Regions from separate parts of the Homo sapiens genome. Here region 1 is linked to region 2. Evidence: fine-mapped expression QTL. A gene starts in region 2. The other region holds a variant in brackets. All regions are shown on one strand. Distances are from middle to middle.

Evidence for each region. PIP is the estimated chance that this variant, and not a neighbour inherited with it, causes the effect. A credible set is the group of variants that fine-mapping cannot tell apart.
Region 1: its variant is the best candidate, but not a certain one, in a credible set for the expression of BCL2L13 in whole blood (INTERVAL, PIP 0.72).

What each region holds. Positions count from the first base shown.
Region 1 is chr22:17,718,937-17,724,315 of GRCh38, reverse strand. The region is part of intron 6 of BCL2L13 (BCL2 like 13); the gene reads right to left. Among named protein-coding and RNA genes, the nearest start is that of MIR3198-1, 43 kb to the left of the region's middle. The variant T/A (reference allele first, on the strand shown) is at 3,136.
Region 2 is chr22:17,635,917-17,641,295 of GRCh38, reverse strand. BCL2L13 (BCL2 like 13) reads right to left here and starts at 2,539. Exons shown (of 7, transcript NM_015367.4): 1 at 2,410-2,539. RefSeq lists enhancers at 1,657-2,529, 2,298-2,577, 2,698-2,877, 2,928-2,977, 2,530-3,401 and 1 more.

The sequences.
Region 1 (5,379 bases), 83 kb before region 2:
TGGGGATGACTGACTAGATAAGATTGTTTTTGTTGTATTTTTAGAGTTGGGGTCTCGCTCTGTCACACAGGCTGAAGTGCAGTGGCAGGATCACAGCTCACTGCAGCCTCAACCTTCTGGTCCCAAGGGATCCTCTAGCCTCAGCCTCCTGAGTAGCTGGGAATAACAGCATGGGCCACTGCACTCAGCTAAGTTTTTTTATTTTTTGTAGAGACGGGTCTCTCTATGTTGCCCAGGCTGGTCTCAAACTCCTGGCTTCAAGCAATTCTCCCACCTCAGTGTCCCAAAGTGCTGAGATTATAGGTGTGAGCCACCACACCTGGACTTGAGTTCATTTTTAAAATGAGGTATAGTTTGTTTTTTGTTTTTTTTTGTTTTTTTTTTGAGACGGAGTCTCACTCTGTCATCAGGCTGGAGTGCAGTGGTGCAATCTTGGCTCACTGCAACCTCCGTCTCCCAGGTTCAAGTGATTCTCCTGCCTCAGCCTCCCGAGTAGCTGGAACTACAGGTGCACGCCACCATGCCCAGCTAATACTTGTATTTTTAGTAGAGACGGGGTTTCACCATGTTGGCCAGGATGGTCTCAATCTCTTGACCTCGTGATCCACCTACCTCGGCCTCCCAAAGTGCTGGGATTACAGGCGTGAGACACCGCGCCCGGCCCGAGGTATAGTATTTATAGTGCTTAGATTAGTACTTTGTACATAGGAAGTAATCAGTAAGTTATGCTATTTCATAACTTGCTATTGTTTGTGTTGTCATTTTAATTGTTGTTTTTGGTGGTATGGTGGTAGGACAAAGAGCTATTCTAAAATACCAACTGGATGGGACAATAAGGAAGTGAAAACAAATGGAAACAATACCCTCCCTTGGCTAAAGAAGGTAATTTACAAACTTTTCCTTCCTCCTCCATCTCTTCTAAGCAGAGATAACACAAAACTGTAAAGTAAAATCTGTCTTTAAAAATTACAGTACTGCAGTATACAATTAGGAAAATTGGAGGGCCCATTGGCTTGGAAGAGAGGGCTTCTAGGCCTCCCAGCTTTTGAGGATGACAGCTTGCCCCAGCCTCAGGGTAAGGACCACTGGAATGGTCCAGAAGAGGATGCATTCAGGAGAGGGAGAAAGAGAGAGGGAGAGAGGGAGAGGGACAGATAGAGAGAGACACAGGGAGGGTTTGGTTCAGCTAAGTAAGCAAAGACATGGAGATCCTAACCGGAAGCTGTAATCAGGTCTCAAGCTTACACATTTTGCAAGGATTTTCATTAGCATCATTTTTAATACAGAAGGATTTCAAACAGTCTTCAATACCCTCAGGAAAGTTTAAAAATATATATGGTTCATCCAAACTATTTAACTACTATTAAAAAAGAAGTACATTTTTAAGTCCAATGTGGAAGGAAGCCCATATTGTACAATAACTCTACATAAAAAACTACAAAGTATTATTGAAAGAAATTAAAGATATCCTAAAGGGATATATATATCATGCTCATAGATTGGAAAACTATTGTAAAGATGTCAGCTATTCCCAGATTAACCCTTTGGTTCAATACAATCTCCAATATAAAATCCTACCAGGTTTTTTCTTATGGAAATTGACAACTAATTAATTCTAAAATCTATATAGCAATTTAAAAAGGCCAAGGAATTTAAGCTGATCTTGAAAAACAACAGTTTGAGAGCTGACACTACCAGGTATCTACTCAACCCATTACAAAGGCACACTGATTGTATAAGCATGGTAAGAGCTTAAAAATAGGCAATTAGACCTGGCTGGGCACAGTGGTTCATACCTGTAATCCCAGCACTTTGGGAAGCTGAGGCAGGAGGATCATTTGAGGCCAGGAGTTCAAGACAAGCTTGAGCAACATAGTAAGACATCATCTCTACATACACACACACACACACACACACACACACACACACACACACACCCCTGTAGTCTCATCTACTCAACTCAGGAGGCTGAAATGGGATGATCCCTTGAGCCCAGGAGTTTGAGTCTGCACTGAGCTATGATCGTGCCACTGTAGTCCAGCCTGGATGACAGAGCAAGATCTTGTCTCAATTCCAAAAAAAACAGAGGCAATTAGACCAATTAAATAAAATAGAATCCAGAACTAGATATATAAGGTCACATGATTTGTGGCAAAGATAACTCTGTGGGAAAATGGATGGTATGATCCTATTTACTAAATGCACATATATACATATCTACTTATTTGCATATATTTATACATAATAAAATGTTTATATAAGCAAAACACATGTTTAGAAAAACGTACACCAAACCATTATGAGTTATTTCTAAGGGGCAAGGTAACAAGAAAAGTGTGCATCATAAAAATTTCTTGGCCGGGCGCGGTGGCTCATGCCTGTAATCCCAGCACTTTGGGAGGCCGAGCAGGGCAGATCACGAGGTCAGGAGATCGAGACCATCCTGGCTAACACGGTGAAACCCCGTCTCTACTAAAAACATAAAAAATTAGCCGGGTGTGGTGGCTCACGCCTGTAATCCCAGCACTTTGGGAGGCTAAGGTGGGTGGATCACCTGAGGTCAGGAGTTTGAAACCAGCCTGGCCAACATGGCAAAACCCTGCCTCTACTAAAAAATACAAAAATTAGCCAGGCGTGGTGGCACATGCCTGTAATCCCAGCTCCTTGGGAGGCTGAGGCAGGAGAATTGCTTGAACCCAGGGAGCAGAGGTTGCAGTAAGCTGAGATCGCACCACTGCACTCCAGCCTGGGTGGCATTAAGACTTACGTCTCAAAAAAAAAAAAAAAAAATTTCTTATAAGTGTCATGACTTAAAAAAAAAAACTATTTCCATTTATTTAAAAGAATGTATTTTTTTAACCACGCTGAAGCCCTCTCCCAAGCCCTGGACTAAATGGAATAAAGCTTTTTGCAGCATAACAAAATTTTTTAAATTAAAAAATAACAAAAATTTAAAAACTAAAAGAATGTAAATATGAACAGGGCTCTGCTACTTCCTGGGAACATGAGATTAGTAGATACTCAACAATCCCCACAGGAACTGTGGAACAATTTGAATCAGGTGAAGAGGCTCCTGAATGTCTGAATTTCGCACATCTGAAATGCGGCGTGGGGCACGTGGAAATATATATATAT[T/A]TTTTTTTTTTGAGACGGAGTCTCGCCCTGTCCCCCAGGCTGGAGTACAGTGGCACGATCTCGGCTCACTGTAAGCTCCACCTCCCGGGTTCATGCCATTCTCCTGCCTCAGCCTCCCCCCGAGTAGCTGGGACTACAGGCGCCCGCCACCATGCCTGGCTAATTTTTTGTATTTTTAGTAGAGACAGGGTTTCTACTATGTTAGCCAGGATGGTCTCGATCTCCTGACCTCGTGATCCACCCGCCTCGGCCTCCTAAAGTTCTGGGAATACAGGCGTGAGCCACCGCGCCCGGCCTGTTATTATCAATTTTTAAAAACTTTTTATTCTTTTAGTATTGAGATTCATATTCATAAAATTCACATAACATAAAAATTCATAGCCAGGCACAGTGGCTCACACCTATAATCCCAACATTTTGGAAGGCAAAGGAGAGAGGATCACTTCAGCCCAGGAATTTGAAACCAACCTGGGCAACACAGTGAGATCCCGCCTCTAAAAAAAAAAAAAAAATTAAGGCCGGGCACGGTGGCTCACGCCTGTAATCCCAGCACTTTGGGAGGCGGAGGCAGGCTGATCGCCTGAGGTCAGGAGTTCGAGACCAGCCTGATCAACATGGAGAAACCCCATCTCTACTACATGTAAAAATACAAAAAAATTAGCCAGGCATGGTGGCACATGCCTGTAATCCCAGCTACTTGGAAGGCTGAGGCAGGAGAATCACTTGAACCTGGGAGGTGGAGGTTGTGGTGAGCCGAGATCGCGCCAGTGCACTCCGGCCTGGACAACAAGAGTGAAACTCCATCTCAAAAAAAGAAAAATTAAAAAATTTAAAAAATTAGCTGGTCTTGGTGATGTACACCTGTAGTCCCAGCTACTCAGCTACTCAGGAGGCTGAGGTGGGAGAATCACTTGAGCCTGGGAGGTCAAGGCTACAGTGAGCCATGATCGTGCCACTGCACTGCAGCCTGAATGACAGAACGAGACCCTGTCTCTAACGAAAGAAAGAAAGAAAGAAAGAAAGAAAATGAAACCCACCATTTCTAGGTGTACCATTCAGTGGTTTTTAGTATATTCATAGTGTTGTGCAACCACATTACAATTGCCAGAAAATTTCCATCATCCCAAAAAGACACCCTTTGGTAGTCACTCTCCATTCTCCCCCTTTTCATCCCCTGGCAATCACTAATCTACGTTCTATCTCTACGGATTGCCTATTCTGAGAAGTAGAAATGGAGTCATGCAATATAGCCTTCTGTATCTGGCTGCTTCCACTTAGCATAATGTTTTCAAGGCCCACCCATGTTGTAGCATGTATCCATACTTCATTCTTTTTTTTTTTTTTTTTTTTTTTGAGATGGAGTCTCACTCTTTCGCCAGGCTGGAGTGCAGTGGCGTGATCTCGGCTCACTGCAACCTCCGCCTCCCGGATTCCAGCGATTATCCTGCCTCAGCCTCCTGAGTAGCTGGGATTACAGGCGCCCACCACCACGCCCAGCTAATTTTTGTATTTTTAGTAGAGATGGGGTTTCACCAAGTTGGCCAGGATGGTCTCGATCTCTTGACCTCATGATCCACCTGCCTCGGCCGTACTTCATTCTTCTTTATGGCTGAGAATAATATTTCATTGTAGGTAGGCACGACATTTTACTTATTAATTAGCTGGTGAACATTTGGGTTGATTCTACTCTTTAGAATAGTGTTGTTATAAATGTCCATGTACTAGTTTTTGTTTGAATGTTTTTATTATTTTGAATACAGCAGGAGTAAAACTGCCAGATCATATGGTAATTTTACGTCAAATTATTCTCCAAAAAATTTAGAAAAATATTTCCAAATATTTTTGGAATTCCAAAACATTTCTGAAAATAATGATGTTGAACATCTTTTCATGTGCTAATTGGCCATTTGTACATTTTCTTTAGAATGACGTGTAATTCAAATCTTTTGCCCATTTTTAAATAGAGTTGTGTTTTTATGTTGGATTGTGAGAATTTTTTATTCTTTTTTTTTTTTTTTTTTTTTTTTGAGACAGAGCCTTGCTTTGTCTCCCAGGCTGGAGTGTAGTGGTGCCATCTCGCCTCACTGCAACCTTGGCCTCCTGGGTTCAGGCAATTCTTCTGCCTCAGCCTCCCAAGTAGCTGGGATTACAGGCATGCACCACTGTGCCTGGCTGTTGTATTTTTGTAGATACGGGGTTTCACCATGTTGCCCAGGCTAGTCTTGAACTCCTGATCTCAAGTAA
Region 2 (5,379 bases):
AAAATCCTGTCTAAAAAATGATAAATGCAGACTGGAACTAAGTGAATGTTTAACACTTGTGTTTTGTATGCCTGAAGTATTTCACAATAAAATACATATCTATTTAGGCCGGGCGCAGTGGCTCATGCCTGTAATCCCAGCACTTTGGGAGGCCGAGGCGGGCAGATCGCGAGGTCAGGAGATCGAGACCATCCTGGCTAACACGGTGAAACCCCGTCTCTACTAAAAATACAAAAAATTAGCCTGTCGCGGTGGCGGGCACCTGTAGTCCCAGCTACTCGGGAGGCTGAGGCAGGAGAATGGTGTGAACTCAGGAGGCAGAGCTTGCAGTGAGCCGAGATCGTGTCATTGCACTCCAGCCTGGGCGACAGAGCGACACTCCGCCTCAAAAAAAAAATATATATATATATATAAAAAATTAATAAACAAACATATATATATTTTTTGAGTCAGGGTCTCTGTCATCCAGACTGAAGTACAGTGGAGCAATCACAGCTCACAGCAGCCTTGATCTCCCGGGCTCAAGCAGTCCTCCCTCTCGCCTCAGTCTTCCAAGTAGCTGGGACCTATGCCTGGCTAATTTTTTTTTTTTTTAATTTTTTGTGAAGACAAGGTCTCCTTATGTTGCCCAGGCTGGTCTCGAACTCCCGGGCTCAAGCAATGCTCCTGCCTGAGCCTCCCAAAGTGCTGGGATTACAGTGAGCCATCGCAAACAGCCAAATGAAATGTTGTTAATGATTATTACTGTTGCAAACCACTTGTCCTAAAAGCTTAATGTGTGTGATATTTAATACATGTTGATTAGATTATGTGCTAGTAAACACAAGTCTGTTTTTTTACAAGACTGGTTAGATATAGCCTTAGGCATCTTTCAATTGAATTCAACTACTGGTCCTTGCTGTAGGAGACAACTAAAAATAAAATAAAAAGTGAATCCAACTACTGAATATACTCTTCCACATAAAAAATGAGCCATTGGAAAAAAAATACAGAACAGTACCTGACCATTCCTAGTAAAAAGATTTTCAATACCCTTAACTGCCTATTACCAAATGAAGAATACTTCACTTGGGGGAGAGAGGGTGTTAAAAATGAAAATAATACTTCATGCGGTGGCGCGGGGGTGGTTGAAAAAAAGGTATCACCGTGCGCGGTGGCTCACGCCTGTAATCCCAACACTTTGGGAGGCTGAGGCGGGGGGATGACCAGAGATTGGGAGTTCGAGACCATCCTGACCAACATGATGAAACCCCGTCTCTACTAAAAATACAAAATTAGCCCCGCGTGGTGGCGCATGCCTGTAATCCCAGCTACTCGGGAGGCTGAGGCAGGAGAATGGCTTGAACCCAGGAGGCGGAGGTTGCGGTAAGCTGAGATCGCGCCATTGCACTCCAGCCTAGGCAACAAGAGGGAAACTCTGTCTCAAAAAAAAAAAAAAAGAAAGAAGGTATCTGAAGGGTGTGGCAACTCATCCAAGGTCACACTAGTCAGGGCAGAGAGCAACATTCTGCTTTATACTAAACCTCCAGAGGAAATCTTATAATTTCGCCAAAGAAGTTTTTGTTTTGTTTTACGCAACAACAACAAAAAAATAAAAGTAAGGAGGGAGGGCTCTCAGCTTAGTTCAAACTTCTAAACAGAGACAGTGAGATAGCTATTTTGAATAAACAAACACTTGTGCAGGGAGTGGCTAAGAGCTAACCAAAGCCAGCAGTCAACAGCATGTGAACAACTGGCCAGATCCGTCCGATTTTCAACGCTAGGTTAGAGCCTCCACTCAGAAAGTCGGTTATGAAGGCAAGAAATAGGATCTTTACAGAATGTTGGGAGGATAAATCAAAGGGGGAAAATGACTCCGTGTGAACTGTACTGCCTCCAAGGGCAAGAAGGCAGTTTTTTTCTGAAAAAATAGGTGTCAGAACAGCAGTGAATTAAGGTTAAGAAACAAGACTTCTAACAATCTCTGAGAAGAAACGACTAAGACTGGCAAAGCTAATCTTCCAGTGTTCTAAGTGAATCGCAGGAAAACCTTTCCCTCAACCAAAAAGAAGTCGCCGTTCCCCAGTTTAGCCCTAAAAATGGACCCGGGTTTTCCACGTGAAGCTGTCTGTGGGGAAGGACAGCGGCGTGGAGCCAGGGCCGAGCTCCTCCGCCTCCGGCACCCCACGCCGGAAGAAGCCTGCTCAGCGGCGGGGCCGCGCGGCCAGGTCCGGTCACGGTGAAGCGGACCCCTAAGCTCCGAGCACCTTCGGGCGAAGGAGCGCCGGTGTAGACACACACACTCAAACTCACGCGTCGTCGGAACCACTGGGGAGTCGGTGGCTCGATACGGTCTCTGGGCACTTTCCTACCCAGGTGAAAACCACCTCCTCACCCAGCTCAGCCTTCCCGGAACCCCACTCCCCTCACCTGGCCCTGGCCCCTGCCCCAGAAGAGATGAAAGAGGCGGCGGCGGCAGTTGCTTCCGACAGGGTCCCCCAGCGGCGGTGAGTGCTCCGACCCGCGGCCCTAATCTACCGCCGCCGCCATGTTGGAGGGTGAGGTCACCCCGGCGTGCCTTCGTCACGGCCGGCGTCGGGGCGGGACCTGAACTACCTGACATCCGGAACGGTATCCGGAGCGGAAGGACCGACCAACGGAGGCCCCGGAGGTCTCTCCGTCCAGATGTGACCTGAAGACCCAAACCCTCCTAGCCCGCCCAAATCTGATTGCGACGTTCGGAAGTTCCGTCTCTCAGATCATTTCCGGAGTCGAGGGGTTGGGATTCTGACCGGCTGGTCGCTGTGTTGGAGGAAGGGCAGGCGATTCCAGGGAAAGAAGCCTTGCTGCATGCACAGGCTATGTTCAGTTCCACAAACATGTATTGCGTTTCAAGTGTTTGCCAAGGGAGCAGGTCAAATAAGTATCTACACAGTCACGACAGCCTCGATGTTCGCCACTAGTTGGGGCAGATGGTCCTTGAAGGTTGGGAAGGAATTCCGGGGAGGGAATATAGCGGGGTGGTGTAGAGAGGTCCTCCTAGGCGAAGGGAACTGGCTGAGCAGAGGCGCCAGGGCATGAAGGAAGTCTTAACTAGTAACCCGCTTTTGTTAACAGTACCTGGAACACACAGCGCCTGGAACATACTTAACTTGTATTAATGGATGTTTGTTTACTTGAATCCGAGAGTTCTTTGGAGGAGTATCGGAAGGTATCTAGGAGAGAGGATACAGTGTGTTTTAGGGAGATCAAATTGCCCGTGGTGTGTGTACTGAATTGGAACAAGGAGGGCATTGACAATAAGGAGTTAGAAGACTGAGCCAGATCAGAAGTGATAAAATCCTGATGGGGAGTGACTGCCAGTGGATACAGAGTTTCTTTTTGGGGTGATGGTGGCACGACTCTTTGAAATACTGAAAACTACTGAATTGTACACTATAGGTGAATTCTATGTTATGAGATCTATATCTCAACAAGGCTATTCTAAAGGAAGTGATAAAAGAGTTGAACTGCTATTGTGGGGCTGGTGCCACAGGATGCTTTTTAAGCCCGAGTGACTGAGGAAAGGATGGTGCCATTAATAGGGACATAAAGTTTTGCAAAGGAAAGGCTTAGTGACCTTGGAAAACTAATAGTACAGGCCGGGTGTGGTGGATCACTCCTGTAATCCCAGCACTTTGAGAAGCCAAGGTGGGCGGATCACTTGAGGTCAGGAGTTTCAGACCTGCCTGGCCAACATGGTGAAACTCCCCATCTGTACTAAAAACACAAAAAATTAGCCAGGTATGGTGTCACGCGCCTGTAATCCCAGCTACTTGGGAGGCCGATGCAGGAGAATCGCTTGAGCCTGGGAGGCAAAGGTTGCAGTGAAATGGGTAACCAAAAATGAAGACTTTTTTTTTTTTTTTTTGAGGCAGAGTCTCACTCTGTCGCCCAGGCTGGAGTGCAGGGGCGCGATCTCAGCTCACTGCAACCTCTGCCTTTCGGGTTCAAGCGATTCTCCTGCCTCAGCCTCCCAAGTAGCTGGGATTACAGGCACCCACCACCATGCCCAGCTAATTTTTGTATTTTTAGTAGAGGCAGAGTTTCTCCACGTTGGTTAGGCTGGTCTTGAACTCCTGACTTCAGGTGATCCACTCGCCTTGGCCTCCCAAAGTGCTGGGATTACAGACGTGAGCCACCGTGCCTGGCTTTTTAAAAATTTTTAATAGAGACGGGGTCTCACCATGTTGGCCAGGCTAGTCTCCTACTCCTGACCTCAAGAGATCCGCCTGCCTCAGCCTCCCAAAGTGCTGGGATTACAGGGGTGCGCCACCGCGCCCGGCCCTAATTTTACTTTTAAGGTCTGTGCAGTTCACTGTATGTACACTTTACCTAAAAAAACTTTCAAAAATGTAACATGCAATAATTTATTTTGGGAGGTACTTATGTTACCAATTTGGTACATACTTAAGTTCATTTCTTTCACATTGCTCTCAGTCTTTTCCTTTATTTATTTATTTATTTTTTATTATTATTTTCTCGAGACAGAGTCTTGCTCTGTCACCCAGGCTGTAGTGCAATGGCGCGATCTCAGCTCACTGAACCTCACCTCCTGGGTTCAAGCGATTCTCCTGCTTCAGCCTCCTGAGTAGCTGGGATTACAGGCACCCACCACCACACCTGGCTAATATTTTTTTTTTGTATTCTTAGTAGAGATAGGGTTTCGCCATGTTGGCCAGGCTGGTCTCCAACTCTTGGCCTTGGGTGATCACCCCTCTCGGCCTCCCAAAGTGCTGGGATTACAGTCGTGAGCCACCATGCCTGGTCTTATTTATTTTTTTAGAGACAAGGTGTCGCTTCTGTTACCCAGCCTGGAGTGCAGTGGTACAATCATACCTCACTGCATCATGGACCTCCTGGGCTCACAATTGTTCCACCTCAGCCTCCCAAGTATCAAGGACCACAGGCTTGTGCCACCACATGTAGCTTTTTTTTTTTTTTTTCTTTTTTTTGAGACGGAGTCTCCCTCTGTTGCCTGGGCTGGAGTGCAGTGGCAGATCTTGGCTCACTGCAACCTCAGCCTCCTGGGCTCAAGTGATTCTCCTGCCTCAGCCTCCAAAGTAGCTGGGACTACAGGTGTGCACCACTATGCCTGGCTACATTTTGTATTTTTAGTAGAGACGGGGTTTCAGTGTGTTGGCCAGGCTGCTCTCGAACTCCTGACCCCAAGTGATCCACCCACCTCAGACTCCCAAAGTGGTGGGATTACAGGCGTGAGCCACCGCCCCAGGCCACACATGGCTACTTTTTAAAAGATGTTTTTGTAGGCCGGGCGTGGTGGTTCACGCCTATAATCCCAGCACTTTGGGAGGCCAAGGGGGACGGATCACGAGGTCAGGAGATGGAGACCATCCTGGC